4 linked regions of the Homo sapiens genome follow. The protein of the gene in region 4 purifies or fractionates together with the protein of the main gene of each other region. This does not show direct contact. Each region holds a gene or a part of one and is shown on either strand. Other genes may lie near its edges.

Region 1 (3,985 bases), on a different chromosome or scaffold from region 4:
CATCAAAGCAGTCCCTAAACTCACACTAAAGGGCCCCCCACTTTTCACTTTTCCTGGGTAGAAAGGACCTGTGACCCTCTCTCCCTTAGCAACCCTTGTGCCCTGGGGCCACTAACTCTCGTCTGGGACTCTACAATAAAGAGTCACACAGCTAACCCCAGACAACCCTGGTCTTGGTTTGGTGAGGGAAGGGTGAAAACTATTCTGTTGTAATTTTTTCTTTGGTGCCTTCAGAATTGGGCTGGGGGCCTGACATTTCAGAGGAGGACCGTCACGTGATATATATGTGGGGCGTTAGCTGAATGCTTGTCAGGAAGTTTGAGCTGGCGGGAAGAGTGAGGGACAAGTTTCTTAAAAGATAGGAAAGCACATCAAACATCAAACCCGTCTGAAGGGAGAGGGGTCTTGAGTCAAGTAACTAAGACTTTATGTCCTGCTAAGTCACTCAAGACCTCTCCACTCCCTCAGGATCTGGCTGACACCCTAGAGTTTCCAAAAAGTTCCCAAAAGTCCCTGGGAAGGAAAGAGTACAAGATCCTCCCAGTTAGAATGGCCACGTAACCAGGGGCTCACTCCCTGAAGCTGCAGACACGGTGTGAGCTGTGCAGCCAGGCTTCACTACACGCAAGTGTTGGTTCTGCCCGAGCTCCTGAGACCAGTTTGGGGCCCAGGGCCCGGTCACAAGTGTCTGACCAGGGTTGGGGAATACGATGGGGGAGGGGGAGACTGGGAGCCAACAGGAGTATAAACAACTTTTGGGCCAGTCTCTCCTGCTCTACGACGCCCACCCATCTCCCTCCAGGGCTGGGGTGCCATCTCACTCCTAAGGAAAGGAGAGAGGGACTCCTGGGTTTCCAGTCATTTCTGCTGGGTGCAGAAAGGTTAGTTTGAGTGGGCTGGTAGGTGGAAGGTGTGTGCAAGATTTCATCCGTTGGGGAGGCTGCACACACCCATGTTCACCGGGCCAACAGCGGTCAGGGATTCCCCTCTGTTTGCTCAGACATGTGCAAAGGGAATAGTCTGTCTAATCTTAGGATGGGGGGAGACCTGAGAGAGAGGACGTGGAGTGTTAGGGCGGTGCTGGGACTGTGAGAGGCCCACTCAAAGTCTAGCTTGGAGGGGACAAGGTGGGGGTTTCAGCTCTCGCCTGTGTCTCCAGTGAACAGGCGAGGCAGAGTCCCGTTGAGTAGGAACCTGAGCATTTGGCCTTCTCAACCTTCCAGCCTCTTGGCTATCTATATACACTCAGACAGTGTGACATTTAGATCCTCAGGCCGCCAGTCTGTCCACTGAGCTGAGACCTTCAGGCTTCTCCAGGGGCTCAAGGACCCACTTTAAGGCCTGGGGAACCCTTAGTTCACTTCTGGGAAGGACTGTGTTCCCTTTTTCTAGCCTGCTCCCCAGCCCCCTTCCAGTGTCTTCTGGGTGGCGCTGGAGGTGGGTGGGTGGGGAGACTCTATAGGAATCAAGCCTGACACATGGTCTCTTTCCAGCTCTTCCCAGCCCCACTGCTGTCCCGTCTCATTTTCAAAACCAGACAAATCACTGGAAGTTGGGAGAAGTTCCATCAAGAAGGGGGACTTTATCACACAGTTGGAATTCTGACTCAAGTGTCTTGGCTTAGGGTCATTTTGGCTTGGGGTAATATCCCTGGTGTTCAACCTCCTAACTCCAGCCCGGAGTAGAGTCCTAAATCCTAATGGACTGCCCCACCCCCTGAGTTTTGGGAGCCTCTGTCCTGGCCTGTCTTTAAGAGATGTGTGGAAGCCGAGAAACCCAGGAGTTCTCCGGTAAAGGGACGCCCACCCAGGAGTGAGAAGCAGGGTGGTGCAGTGGGAAGGGCCATGGTCCGGTTTCTGCGTCTAGCTTAGCCTGGGTGCAGTCACTGGCACTCCAGATCAAGGGGTTCTCTTCCAGCCAGGTTGACAAGGTCTTGGGCACTCCCAGCCAACACCGTTACCCCCGCGTCCCCACCCTCGTACCTGCAGCACGTTGGGGTGCCGCAGCCGCTCCAGCAGCACCATCTCCTTAAGCAGCTTGTGGGCCGCCAGCCGATAGCAGCCCCTCCGTACCCCGAACTCGCGCACGCAGCTGCCCAGATCGTGGCCGCTAAAGTCCACCGCCTTGAGCGCCACCGCGGCACCGCCGGGCAGGCGGACCCGGTACACGGCCTTGGTGTAGCCTGAGCCCATGTACTGCGCGCCGGACACGTTGCGAAGCGCGGCGCAGCCCAGGCGCGGGCCCGGGCCGGGGGAGCCTGGGCCGGGAGCCGGGGGCCAGCCTGGGGCGCCGTCGGACAGGGGCCGGGCCCAAGGGGGCCGGGGGCGCGGCAGGCCGGGCCCGCCCGGAGCCAGGTCCATCAGGCGCCGCCGCTCCGGCCGGCCCGCCCCGGGCCCGGGGCCCCCGCGGGAATAGCGCTGCACCTCCTCGTAGCGCGCCCGGATCTGCCGGGCCAGCTCCCCGCGGCCCCCGCGACGGCCCGGACCCGGGGCCGGCGAAGGCTCAGGGGACTGGCCTGGCCTCGGAGGCTCCGAGCCCGGAGCGAAGAGCACGTTGAGGACGGAGCCCAGCAGGAAGGAGGCGCAGAAACCCGCGGCCACTGCCGCCCGCCGGCGCCGCATCGCTCCCCTCCCCCCGGCCGGCCGGCCCCGCGCGGCTCCCCGGCCCCGGCCCCGGGCGGCTCAGGCTCCGAGGCGGCTCCGCTCTGCGCCCCGCCGGCCCCCTGCCCAGCCCGCGCGCATGGCCCCGGCGGCCCCGACCCCGGCCCCTCGCGGGCGACACATCGGCCTGACACTTGCCTCCCTGCCGCCCTGCCCCCGCCGCTTATAAGGCCCAGAGCCGCCCCCCGCCCCCGCCCCCGCCCCCTCCCCCGCCCCCTCCCCCGCCCCTCCGCCTCCACCTCCCAGCTCCCGGCCCGAGCCCGTCCTCGGCGCCGCCCCCTCCGGCCGCCCGGCCCGGCCTTCCCCGCTGACTGACAGCGGGACCTCCTCCCGCGGCCGTCCGGGCCTGGGAAGCGGCGCGGAGGCGGCTCCGGTCCTGCCCAGCCCGCGGTCCCGCCCAGCCCGCGGTCCCCCGAGCTCCGTCTGGGAGCGGGGGAGGGGGCGGCGGCGGCCAGGAGGCGCGCGGGGGCTCCGCGCCCAACGCGAGGGCGGATAACGGGGCCGGGGCGGCCGGATAACGGGATTGGGAGGTGGATAACGGAGCCGGCCGGGCGGAGTGGGGGAAAGATAAAGGGGCGAGGCCGGCGGGTAGCGGGCTCCGGAGGGGACGAGCAGCTAAGTCCGGGGTGCGGAGATCCGAGTGATCTCAGCGCTCCCTCCTGGGACTGGGGGCCTCGGGGCGGTTTGGGCGCAGGGAAGGCGCGTGGACCCCGTCTCTCGCGGGTGGGGCCGGGGGTGGCGGCTCCTCGCTCAGCCCCGGATTCCGGATTGGGGCGATGGTGAGGGGGAAGCGGGCACAGCCGGGCCAGCACCTGCGAGCGCGCGTGGGACAGGAGCTCTAGGCATAGAGGAATGCTCGTGAGCTCGCCGAGGATGCCCTGTTCAACTCCTTTTACCAAAGTGTTTCTGATTTTCCTTGCCTCTAAAGCCCCAAATGCAGCTGGGGGTCGCTCCCTACCCCTCAAGATGCCTGGGGTCTGACGGGGTCAGCCGCGTATAAGAAACCATGTGCATGCTAGTAGCTTGGGCAAAGAGTGCGTTTGTGCCCACGGACGGCTGTCTGTGGAGTGTGTGCCTCGGCGTGTCTGAAGGGGCCATTGTGTCCGATGAAGGGAATGTGTACCTTGTGTGTAAGTTGGTGCTGACGCCACCAGAACTTCGGTCCCTCCTCCTCCCTCCCTGATTGCATCATTAGTGCTAATTGAGGGGCTTTCACACGCCAGTGCACTAGCTGTTTGGAGTGAGCTCCCCCCTCCTGGGAGAGATAAGCCGCTGCCCCTCCCCCTCGCAGCTCTCCTCTTCCCCGCCACTCTGAAACTGCCCAC
Region 2 (2,501 bases), on a different chromosome or scaffold from region 4:
TGGTCTCTGAGACTCCAGGAGGAGGAGACTCCAGGAGGCCTGCGTGCGTTCAGATGCTTGACTTTGCTTCCTTGGGCCCTGCCTCCTTTTCCCTCCCCACAGCCTTCCCCTGTGTCTCCTGAACCTCTTCTTGCTTTCATGACTGAGTAGTTCAGGCTCTGCCTTCCCCACAAAACCCTTCCAGGGCCACCCTAGTGAACTGCGGGGCCCTATCCCTGTGCCTCAGCTCAGTTTGTTGTCTTCTGTTCACCTGTGTGTGTCCCATTAGACTGAGAGGAACAAGTGCCGAAGGCAGGGACAAGGTGTGGAGTACAGATCCCCAATGATGGGATGGAGGCTGGGTAGAAGAGGGAGGCGTTTGGGTGACAGCCTTGTTCTTGGTAAGCTAGAAGTAGGATGTTTTCTCGCTGGGGGCAGTTTCTCTGACAGCAGGCACCGGAAGCTGTCTGAGGCGTCAGTTCCAAGAACCTCAGTTTCTTTCTTGCAAGGCCTCTGAGTCCATCAGAGACTGAGCCCAGTGCCCTGAGGTGGGCAAGGCCCCTGCCCAAGATAGGAGGGTGCTCAGGTTGTTGGGCCACAGCTGAATCCTCCGTGTCTGAAGCCTAGTGCCATCAAGGACTGGACCTGTGGGGCACAGGACAGCTTGCAGCTACACTCTATGCCAAGGGCTTCCCAGAGAAGGCCGACCCAGGTGGCCAAGGGCCAGGGCCCAATTGCCCACCCCCAGCCAAGTGCCCCAGAGAAGAAGGTGAAGACCCTGACCTGCGCTGGGTTGTAGTGGGGAAGGAAGAGGACAGTCGCACCCAGACACTGCTTCTGAGAAGCTCACAGGCCAGCAGGGGAAGCCCTTTCACAGCTGTTGCCACCAGTGCAGGAACGTGGTGCTGCCTCCTAAGAAGGGGCAGGGCAGGGGCTGGGGAGCACAGTGAAAGGAACCATGGACTGTGCCCTTGGCCTGGGGAAGGTGGTGGTGGCCCTGCAGGGGAAGCTGGAGGATGTTAGGAGAGAGCATGAAGGCTCAGGGGCTGAGCGCTGTAGCCTGCTGCCTTGGGAAACACTCTGGTAGGCTTCTACTTTTCAGAAGGCCTGGCTCTCTGCTTCCTGCTCTCCCCTTCCCAGAGACTCATGAGTTCTCACATTTAAGAAGTCCTCTTTCCGTCTATCCTTAGTGGAGGTGTGAGCAGAGACTGGATTGGCGTCCCCAGGAAGCTGTATAAGCCAGGTGCTAAGGAGCCCCGCTGCGTGTGTGTGAGAACCACCGGCCCCCCTAGTGGCCAGATGCCGGACAACCCTCCACACAGAAATCGTGGGGACCTGGACCACCCAAACTTGGCAGAGTACACAGGCTGCCCACCGCTAGCCATCACATGCTCCTTTCCACTCTAAGCCGTAGCCTCTTCTGTTAATAACACACAGAGAGCTCTGCCAAGCACCTGAGTAGGCCCTTGACACTTGTGTGCCCTGGGATGCCTCCTGGCGCGAATCAGGAGGGTCTGGAAGGACTCTGGCTATATTCTGCAAATGTGGCTCATGCCCCTTACCGTGGCTCGGCGTTGTGGTGCCTGAGGGACAGCCGGCCACCTGCCCAGTACTGGTCAGCTTTTCAACACTATTCCCTTTGACCTACTGGCCATCTTCCTCACAGCCCTCAGATATCAACGGGCACAAATAAGACCAACTCAATTTCCACTTGAATTTACAACCAAAAGCCTGCTGAGTTGATTACAGCTGGGCCAATACAGTACGAGGCAATAACAAATTAGTGTGGGTTGATTCTGGAATTGGAAAAGCTTTTGCTTGTATGGATACAGCAAATCCAGATGTCTCTGAACAAAGCAACAATTTAAAGCAACGACATTTTCTGTCCTTTAAGCACTTAAAATCAGGTGTGGTGTGTTTTCAAAGGCAGAAGTCTGCATTTTGAGCAAAAGGTGGCTTCCCAGCTCTAACAAGGTAACTGGTTAGCATGACATTAAAGCTTGGGCAAGGCTTCAAACTTAAGGTGGCTGGGCTTGCTGCTTGTCCAGTGGTTTGTATGTCCAGCGTCATCTGGCAATGTCATACCTGTTACCTCTTGACTACTTGTGAAGGTAGATGGGGGCAAGGAGTGTTCCTACTTCAGACAGAGAAGTGGGACCAGCACTACCACAGACAGCGCCACGGCCTCTGTGCATCGCCTCATCAGAGCTTCCACCCAGCTCCCTTTGCCGCTCAGTCTCACCCTCAACATCCACCAGCTTCCTCCCTCTCTGTCACTGTCTCCTTTTTCTCCATCATTCATTTCACTAAATCGCTTTCCAGATTCACAGACTAGAAAATGGAGGCTGCCTCCCCTTCACTGGCAGACCCGTACTCACTGCCCCTGTCCCCTTCACTGGCAGACCCGTGCTCACTGCCCCTGTCCCCTCACTGGCAGACCCGTGCTCACTGCCCCTGTCCCCTCACTGGCAGACCCGGGCTTATTGCCCCTATGGCCACAGCTGTTCCTTACACTTGGGCTC
Region 3 (3,500 bases), on a different chromosome or scaffold from region 4:
GCGTCGGGGGCCTCTGGGAGGAAGAAGCCCAGGAGCTCCCTGTGGTGGAACAGGAGCGAGTCAACAGGCAGCCCCCATGCCGTGGAAGGGATTTCTGCACAGGGTTCAAGTTTAACAAGGATGATACAAAACCTATCAACTGCAACTCCCGTCGGCCAGCGCTGCCTTGTAACCTCTCAGCAGAGCTCCCCCTTCCCTTCCAGCCCTTGGGGCTTTCTGCTTTCCTGGAGGGGCTGTGAAAGAGCCTGTGTTTGCTTTTGGGACCCTGGAAAGCCACCCATTGGATCCCCAGGGTGGAAAGTCTCCCCAGCCTGTGAGAGGCTGGCATTCGGCAGAAGACACGGCGGGCACGCCTGGACGGGCAGCACCCCCACCCACCCGTTGGCCTCCTACCCTCGCTCCGCGTTGACGACGATGGCCCTGGGCTTGTCGCGGTCCCCACGCAGCACCACCCCCATGGCTTCCCCGCTCAGCCTGTGGACGTTGATGGTATTGGTGGCCTCGCACGTCCAGAACAGTGTCCGGCTGTAGATGTCGATGCTGAGGTCGTGGGGCTGCCTGTCTGGGTTTTGGCCTTGGCTCAGAGAGGTCAAAACAAAGGGCTGTAAGACAAAGAAACCAAGACTCCTGAGCACTGGCGGAGACCCCTGGGCACTGGCGGAGACCCCTGGCACTGGCGGAGACCCCCGGGCACTGGTGGAGACCCCCGGGCACTGGCTGGAGAGCCCTGGGCACTGGCTGGAGAGCTCTGGCAGGACAGCAGAGGCCACACTTCTCAAGTTTAGCCTGAAAGTCAAATCCCAGTATTGGTGTGGGGGTCTCTCCTCTCCAATCAGCTCCTAACTACGTGCCCGCCTGAGTATGCCAGAGCGATTAGGACAACAGCCTCTGGAAGAGCTCTTGCCGCCTCGGACTTTAGGCCTCCTCAGCCACCCGCCGGGCACCCAGCTGTGCATCACTAGACTGGCGCTCCCATGAAGGCCCCATTGACAGTCGAGAAGGGATCCAAGACCATGGGGCCCTTCCCAACACATCCCTGTCTCCTCCACCTTCCAGGACTCAAGCTTTTGGACTGCGGCCCTCACGTACTGTTTTCTCTGCAGGGCACCAGGACAGACAGTTTGGGGGCCGCCCCTTACAACCCCTTCCCCAACGGAAGGAGGCCAGGTGAGGGGAGGGCAGGTGAGGGTGGGGGTTAGGTGAAGGTGGGGGACAGGTGAGGGTGCAGGGGCGGGTGAGTGGGGGAGGTGAAGGTACAGGGGAGGTGAGGGTGGGTAGGGAAGGTGCGGGTAAAGGGATCGGTACAGATGTGGGGGTAGGTGAGGCTGGGGGCCAGGTGAGGGTGGGTAGGGGCAGGTGAGTGTGGGGAATGACTCAGAGCCCCTCTTGGGAAGGCAGGGCAGCCACGTCTCTCAGTGACTCTCAAGGACTCTCCGTCTCCACACTCTCTGGGGTCACCGTCCAGGAGATGCTCGAGCGCTGCCTAAGCCCAGCCCACCCTGTGCATCTCAGGGATGAGCCTGGGCTTTTGGGGCCTCCGACACAGCATCCCTTCGAAGGGCTCTTACTGAGCTGACGTAGGAGGAGAGGACAGCCCAGAAGCCTACTGCCTGCGGGGATCTGGTTCCTTTGGGTTACCCTGAAAGACAGCTGCATCCAAGTTCCCGAGTGATTTGGCCTGGGGCAAATGGGGCCTGGAGCACCTGGGCTCCTGCCACCCAGGCCTGAAGGAAAAGCTCCCCTCCCTCTCCATTGAGTCAGAGGGAATCATCTTAGGATGGTGCTCTGATAGTAAGTCTTTTCAGACTTTCTTTATCTAGGTCTTTCAGCAGTTAATAAAACAGGGAGACAGCAGTGGCTCACACCTGTGATCCCAGAATGTCGGGAAACTGAGGTGGGAGAATCACTTGAGTTCAGGAGTTTGAGACTAGTCTGGGCAACATAGCAAGACTCCATCTGTATCAAAAAAAATTAAACCAACCAAACAAAAAAAACAATAGCTCAGTATGGTGACGCACGCCTACAGTCCCAGCTATTCAGAAGGCTGAGGTGGGAGGATCGCTTCAGCCTGGGAGGCCGAGGCTGCAGTGAGCTATGCTCATATCACCATACCCCAGCCTGGGTGACAGAGTGAGACCCTGTCTCAAAAAAATACAAATAAAACAAAGTCTCTAAGTAGATAAAAAGAAGCGTCTTCCCCAGGCCCAGTCTCTTGGACCCAGATGGAAAGGGTGCCTCCCCCATACACACACACACACCACACACCACACACACGCGCACACACACACACACACCCCACACACACACACCCCCAGATGGAAAGGGTGCCTCCCTCCCCCATACACACACACACACCACACACACACCACACACACACACACACACACACACACACACACACACAGCCTTGCTGGGCAGCTGCAAAGACATCATCACTTTCATCTGGACACGAAGGATCATGTGTCTTTGTAGATAACAACATCCACATCACTACAGAGCTGTGGACCCTAGGGGGCCATGTGTCAAAGCCAACTGAACAAATTCCTTCCTAAAAGCCACTAGCTGTGGACCCTGGACTGGTACAGCTGCCGGGCTGAAAGACAAGCAAGATTCCAGCTACCCTGGCCAAAATCAGGCTCACCGTGGAGGGTGGGTCTGTGGGAACCAGATGCAAAAACAGACTTTGGGACAGCAGTCTGGAGAACCACCATCTGAGAAACGTGTACTGTGTGACGTGACACCCTGGCCACACTCCTCCCGGGCACAAAAACAACACAGCAAACTTTACGCGGCTGGCCAGTTTCATAAACCCTGAACTCTTTTTTTTTTTGAGACGGAGTCTTGCGTGAGACAGAGTTTTGCGTGAGACGGAGTCTTGCTCTGTTGCCCAGGCTCGAGTGCAGTGAAGCGATCTCGGCTCACCGCAAGCTCCGCCTCCCGGGTTCACGCCATTCTCCTGCCTCAGCCTCCCAAGTAGCTGGGACTACAGGTGCCCGCCACCACACCTGGCTAGTTTTTTGGTATTTTTAGTAGAGACGGGGTTTCACCATGTTGGCCAGGATGGTCTTGATCTCCTGACCTCATGATCCGCCCGCCCTGGCCTCCCAAAGTGCTGGGATTACAGGCGTGAGCCACCGCGCCCGGCCCCTGAGCTTTCATTTTAATGTAGTACAAATACTTATGGTTAGTGCAAACTTTCTTACCAGAATCCTATGCAACACCACAAACACGCCTTTTCCTCACTAGTACAAAACCTTCACCACGGAAGGAAATGTTCATAGTGGCCTTATTCACGACAACCAAAGGTGGAAGAAACCTAGCACCCGTGGATGGATAAATAACAAGAAGTGGTCCGTCCATCCATCCGATGATTTTTTTTTTTTTTGAGACAGGAAGTCTCACTCTGTTACCCAGGCTGGACTGCAGAGGCACAATCTTGGTTCACTGCAACCTCTGCCTCCCGGGTACAAGCGATTCTCCTGCCTCAGCCTCCTGAGTAA
Region 4 (3,500 bases):
GGACTTGCATATCTTCATCAGAGGGACAGAGAGTCATCTGAGAGGGCACAGGGCAGGAGTCCTTCGGGGCCTCTCTGACCTGGCCCGGGGCAGGGAGCTGGGGATGGAAGTGCCATGAGTGCAAATAGGGAGCAGGGGGTCAGAGGAACAGAGGATATGGGAATGGGTGGTGGAGCCGGGAGAGACTGGAGCTTTGCCAATGGGGGCCTGGGCTGAGCAGGGCTCAGAGCATGTGGTGATGAGCCTTATGGCAGGTGAGGCTCAAGGCCCAGTGTGTGCTTAGGGAAGTGGGCAGCAGAGCGGGTGAGGGACCCGTGGGTGTATCACAGGGGTAGGGTGTTGAGGAAGTTCCAAAGCAAGCTAATAGGGGTTATGGCTGGAGAGAGGCCCAGTGTGTGTGCTAATGGGGGATAGTGTGGTAGAGGCACCAGGGTGTGTGCTAATAGGCCTCTGAGGCCTCGTGTGTGGTGATGGGGGTGTGTATGGTGTTAGTGCTGTGTGTGTGTCTGTGGGGGCCTGCAGGGTAGGAGAGAATGGGGTGCTTATGGAGGGGAGGTGGTTGAAGGACTCAAGTGCTGGGTGTGCGCTTGTGGGGGTTGTGCCGTGGTGGGTGTGTGCATGCGCTAATAAAGGTCTGGGTAGTTGGAGCCCAGTGCATGCTAATGGAACAGAGCTGGAGGGACCTCATGGAGGGATCTGATGGAGGGAGGACGGTGGGAGACCTGAGCCTGTGCTAGCGGGGATGAGGATTGTGGATCTCTGTGAGGTAGGGGGTGGTGGTGGTGCGGGAAGGGTCTTGGTACCGTCAGAGGCCCGGTGCGCTAAGGGTCAAGTTGGTGTGAGGTGCACGTGTGTCCCTGAGCACGAGGACACTCTAGGAAGGGGCAGCCGGATGGTTTAAGGCGTTCTAGAGGCTGCTACTGTGGGTTTAGAGCCATAGAGGCACTGAAGTGTGTGCCATTGCTGGGAGAGTCAGCAGTGTGAGGTCTGGAGTACGCTCAAGAGCGCCAGAACAGTATGAGCTTGTGTGCTTGCATCTGTGGGGTACTGGAATGTGTTGAGGTTCCAGGGAATACTGATGCAGGGGATGAGTAGAGCCGTGGAGGGGATAAAAATAAATTTAAAAGGCCAGGTGCAGTGGCTCATGCCTGTAATCCCAGCAATTTGGGAGGCTGACGCAGGAGGATTGCTTGAGGCCAGGAGTTCAAGGCCAGCCTGAGCAACATCGTGAGACCCAGTCTCTACAAAAAAAAATACAAAAATTAGCTGGATGTGGTGATGCGCACCTGTAGTCCCAGCTACTAAGGAGGCAGAGGTGACAGGATTGCTTGAGTTTGAGGCTGCATTGAGCTATGATTGCACCACTGCACTCCAGCCCGAGTGACAGAGTCAGACCCTATGTCAAAAAAAAAAAAAAAAAAAAGGAAGAAAATCATAGAATTTTGGAGATGAGTAAAGTTTAGGCAAATTTAAATGAAGTAGTGTTTTGATGGGCTCAAAGCCATGTAGAACTGAGTGTAAAGGGGCCAAGATCTAGTCTGGACTGCAAAGTGGTCCTCTTTCCTTGGAGACTACCAGGTTAACATAGATGTGCAGGATTATCTCCAGAAACTCCTTATCTGAAGGTCTGCCCTGTTTGGGAACTGAGGTTGCTTCTGTGTGTCAGAGTGACTTTGATCCTCCAGGAAAGCATGGGATGTTTTATCCCAACTGATAAGACTTCAAACTGCAAAATTTCTGGTAGTCTGTGATTGTAGAGAACAGAATTTCTAGGTAGTAAAAAAGGAGTCTTCATCCAAAGGGGGTTTTTGACACTTTATGGCTGCAGTGTGTTCTAAGGAGAAATGCCGTTTCCTGTTAACTTTGTGGTTTCATTGACGTCTTGTCCCAGCTCTGTATATGGGAGTGGATTTTGTTTTCTCAAGGAGGAGGTAGGAACAAGCTTCCTGTCCTGGATTTTTCATGGCTGGCTCCTCTCAGGCCTCTAGTCACAGTGTGAAGGTCACCTCCTTAGAGAGGTCTCCTGGGATGCTTCCTCCAGGGAGTTCCTACACAGTTACTCTCTATCTTTGAACCCCCATCACAGGATGATGATAGACCTATTTGTTTACTTGTTTATTGTCTGTCTTCCCCACTAGACTTTTCCCCTAAGCTCCAGCAGGATAGGAACCATGCTGGTGTAATTCACTGTGTGTGAATGTCTCCAGCACCCACTGCAGGGCTGGGCACATAGAAGCTGCTCAGGACATGTTGCGGGAATGAGCAGCTGGAAGTCAGTGATGGAGAAGAAGAGAGCAGACTGGGACAGAGAGACTCTGATGGGCTTCCCCACGGCCCTGCTCTGTCCTGGGGCTTGAGAACCTGAGGAAACCTGGACTTGAGGCAGGAGGAGGGCCCTGGGAAAGTTGGACCGTTTGGACTATGGCGATTTGTCTGGGTACATAGCTGCAGTTTCTGTTTACACACTTCCTGTTTGGTACTTTGTGGCAGGGTGTTTCCCGACCAGTCCCTGGGCGCCAACTAGAGTATGGACTGACCAGGTACCTGGATGGAGACCTGAGCTGGAGAAGGAGATGCGCTTGGGAGGTAACCCTGCATGTCACAGCTGTCTCTGACCCAGTTCTGTCCCAGTGCCCCAGCATTCCAGTGCTGTTTAGCTGGCTCCCACTGGCATGGCCACATCCACTGTTAAAGTCTCCATATACTTCCATTCTGCTCCATTCTGCTTCTGTAAATCACCTCTGCCATCCACGGTCCTACTTCAGGCTTCTCCGCAGCCAGGCCCCTCCACCATGGCCTTGCACGGCTCCAGCGGTAGAGCCCACACATTATCAGTGGTTACTTATCGCTGGTGTGACATCTGAGTGGTCATCTCTCCAATCTCATCGCTGTTATTCTAGCTCATGTACTTGTCAGCTCCTGTCCGTGGTCATAACCAGGGCTTCTTAATAACTGGTCTCCCAGCCTCAGTCTCTTTCACCCCAAATCTACCTTTCATAACTGCTGAAGAGTAGCTTTTATTTCTTAAAACTGTTGAGGGGATTCTGAGTACCTCCCAGGGAACAGGACAGCTGCTTAGCTGAGTTCGACAGAGGCCCTCAGCTTCCCAGCCTCCACCTGCTACCCTAAGCAGCCTCCTTCTGCTGTCCTTTGTCCACCCTCTGTCCCTGTCCCACCAGTTGACTAATACATTTTGCTTTCATTTTACTGAATATTCATGAGCATCTATTTAATGCATGCTACTGTGAGTCGGACAGAGTCAGACACAAACACCTCCCACCTAACCTAATCTAGAGGAACCCGCATTTTAGTTTGTAATAAAAAGTAATGATTATGGAAACAGCTAACATTGGGCATTTGGGATAAGCCTGGTGTTCGATACCTGCTTTAATCCCCACGGTAACGCTGCAGCTTACAGGACCCTTGAGTAGAAGAGGCATCAGAACACATTTTTGGAAATGAAAGGAAGTGAAAGCTGACTGTCATGACTTCTTGTTTCA

Evidence for each region. The genes of interacting proteins can lie anywhere in the genome.
Region 1: the proteins of POMK (region 4) and PKDCC purify together in Homo sapiens (affinity purification with mass spectrometry; 4 studies listed by BioGRID and IntAct, with this or other methods). This does not show direct contact.
Region 2: the proteins of POMK (region 4) and CYB5D2 purify together in Homo sapiens (affinity purification with mass spectrometry; 4 studies listed by BioGRID and IntAct, with this or other methods). This does not show direct contact.
Region 3: the proteins of POMK (region 4) and LRP5 purify together in Homo sapiens (affinity purification with mass spectrometry; 4 studies listed by BioGRID and IntAct, with this or other methods). This does not show direct contact.

Annotation. Positions count from the first base shown.
Region 1 is NC_000002.12:42,046,836-42,050,820, reverse strand, and holds the start of PKDCC (extracellular tyrosine-protein kinase PKDCC precursor), read right to left. Parts: upstream 2,801-3,985; 5' UTR 2,622-2,800; coding exon 1,983-2,621; intron 1-1,982. UniProt on the Homo sapiens protein: Secreted tyrosine-protein kinase that mediates phosphorylation of extracellular proteins and endogenous proteins in the secretory pathway, which is essential for patterning at organogenesis stages.
Region 2 is NC_000017.11:4,155,697-4,158,197, forward strand, and holds the end of CYB5D2 (neuferricin isoform 1 precursor), read left to right. Parts: intron 1-250; exon of another isoform or gene 251-497; intron 498-1,169; coding exon 1,170-1,386; 3' UTR 1,387-2,001; downstream 2,002-2,501. UniProt on the Homo sapiens protein: Heme-binding protein which promotes neuronal but not astrocyte differentiation.
Region 3 is NC_000011.10:68,420,591-68,424,090, reverse strand, and holds part of LRP5 (low-density lipoprotein receptor-related protein 5 isoform 1 precursor), read right to left. Parts: intron 603-3,500; coding exon 394-602; intron 1-393. UniProt on the Homo sapiens protein: Acts as a coreceptor with members of the frizzled family of seven-transmembrane spanning receptors to transduce signal by Wnt proteins.
Region 4 is NC_000008.11:43,100,015-43,103,514, forward strand, and holds part of POMK (protein O-mannose kinase), read left to right. Parts: intron 1-2,490; 5' UTR 2,491-2,586; intron 2,587-3,500. UniProt on the Homo sapiens protein: Protein O-mannose kinase that specifically mediates phosphorylation at the 6-position of an O-mannose of the trisaccharide (N-acetylgalactosamine (GalNAc)-beta-1,3-N-acetylglucosamine (GlcNAc)-beta-1,4-mannose) to generate phosphorylated O-mannosyl trisaccharide (N-acetylgalactosamine-beta-1,3-N-acetylglucosamine-beta-1,4-(phosphate-6-)mannose).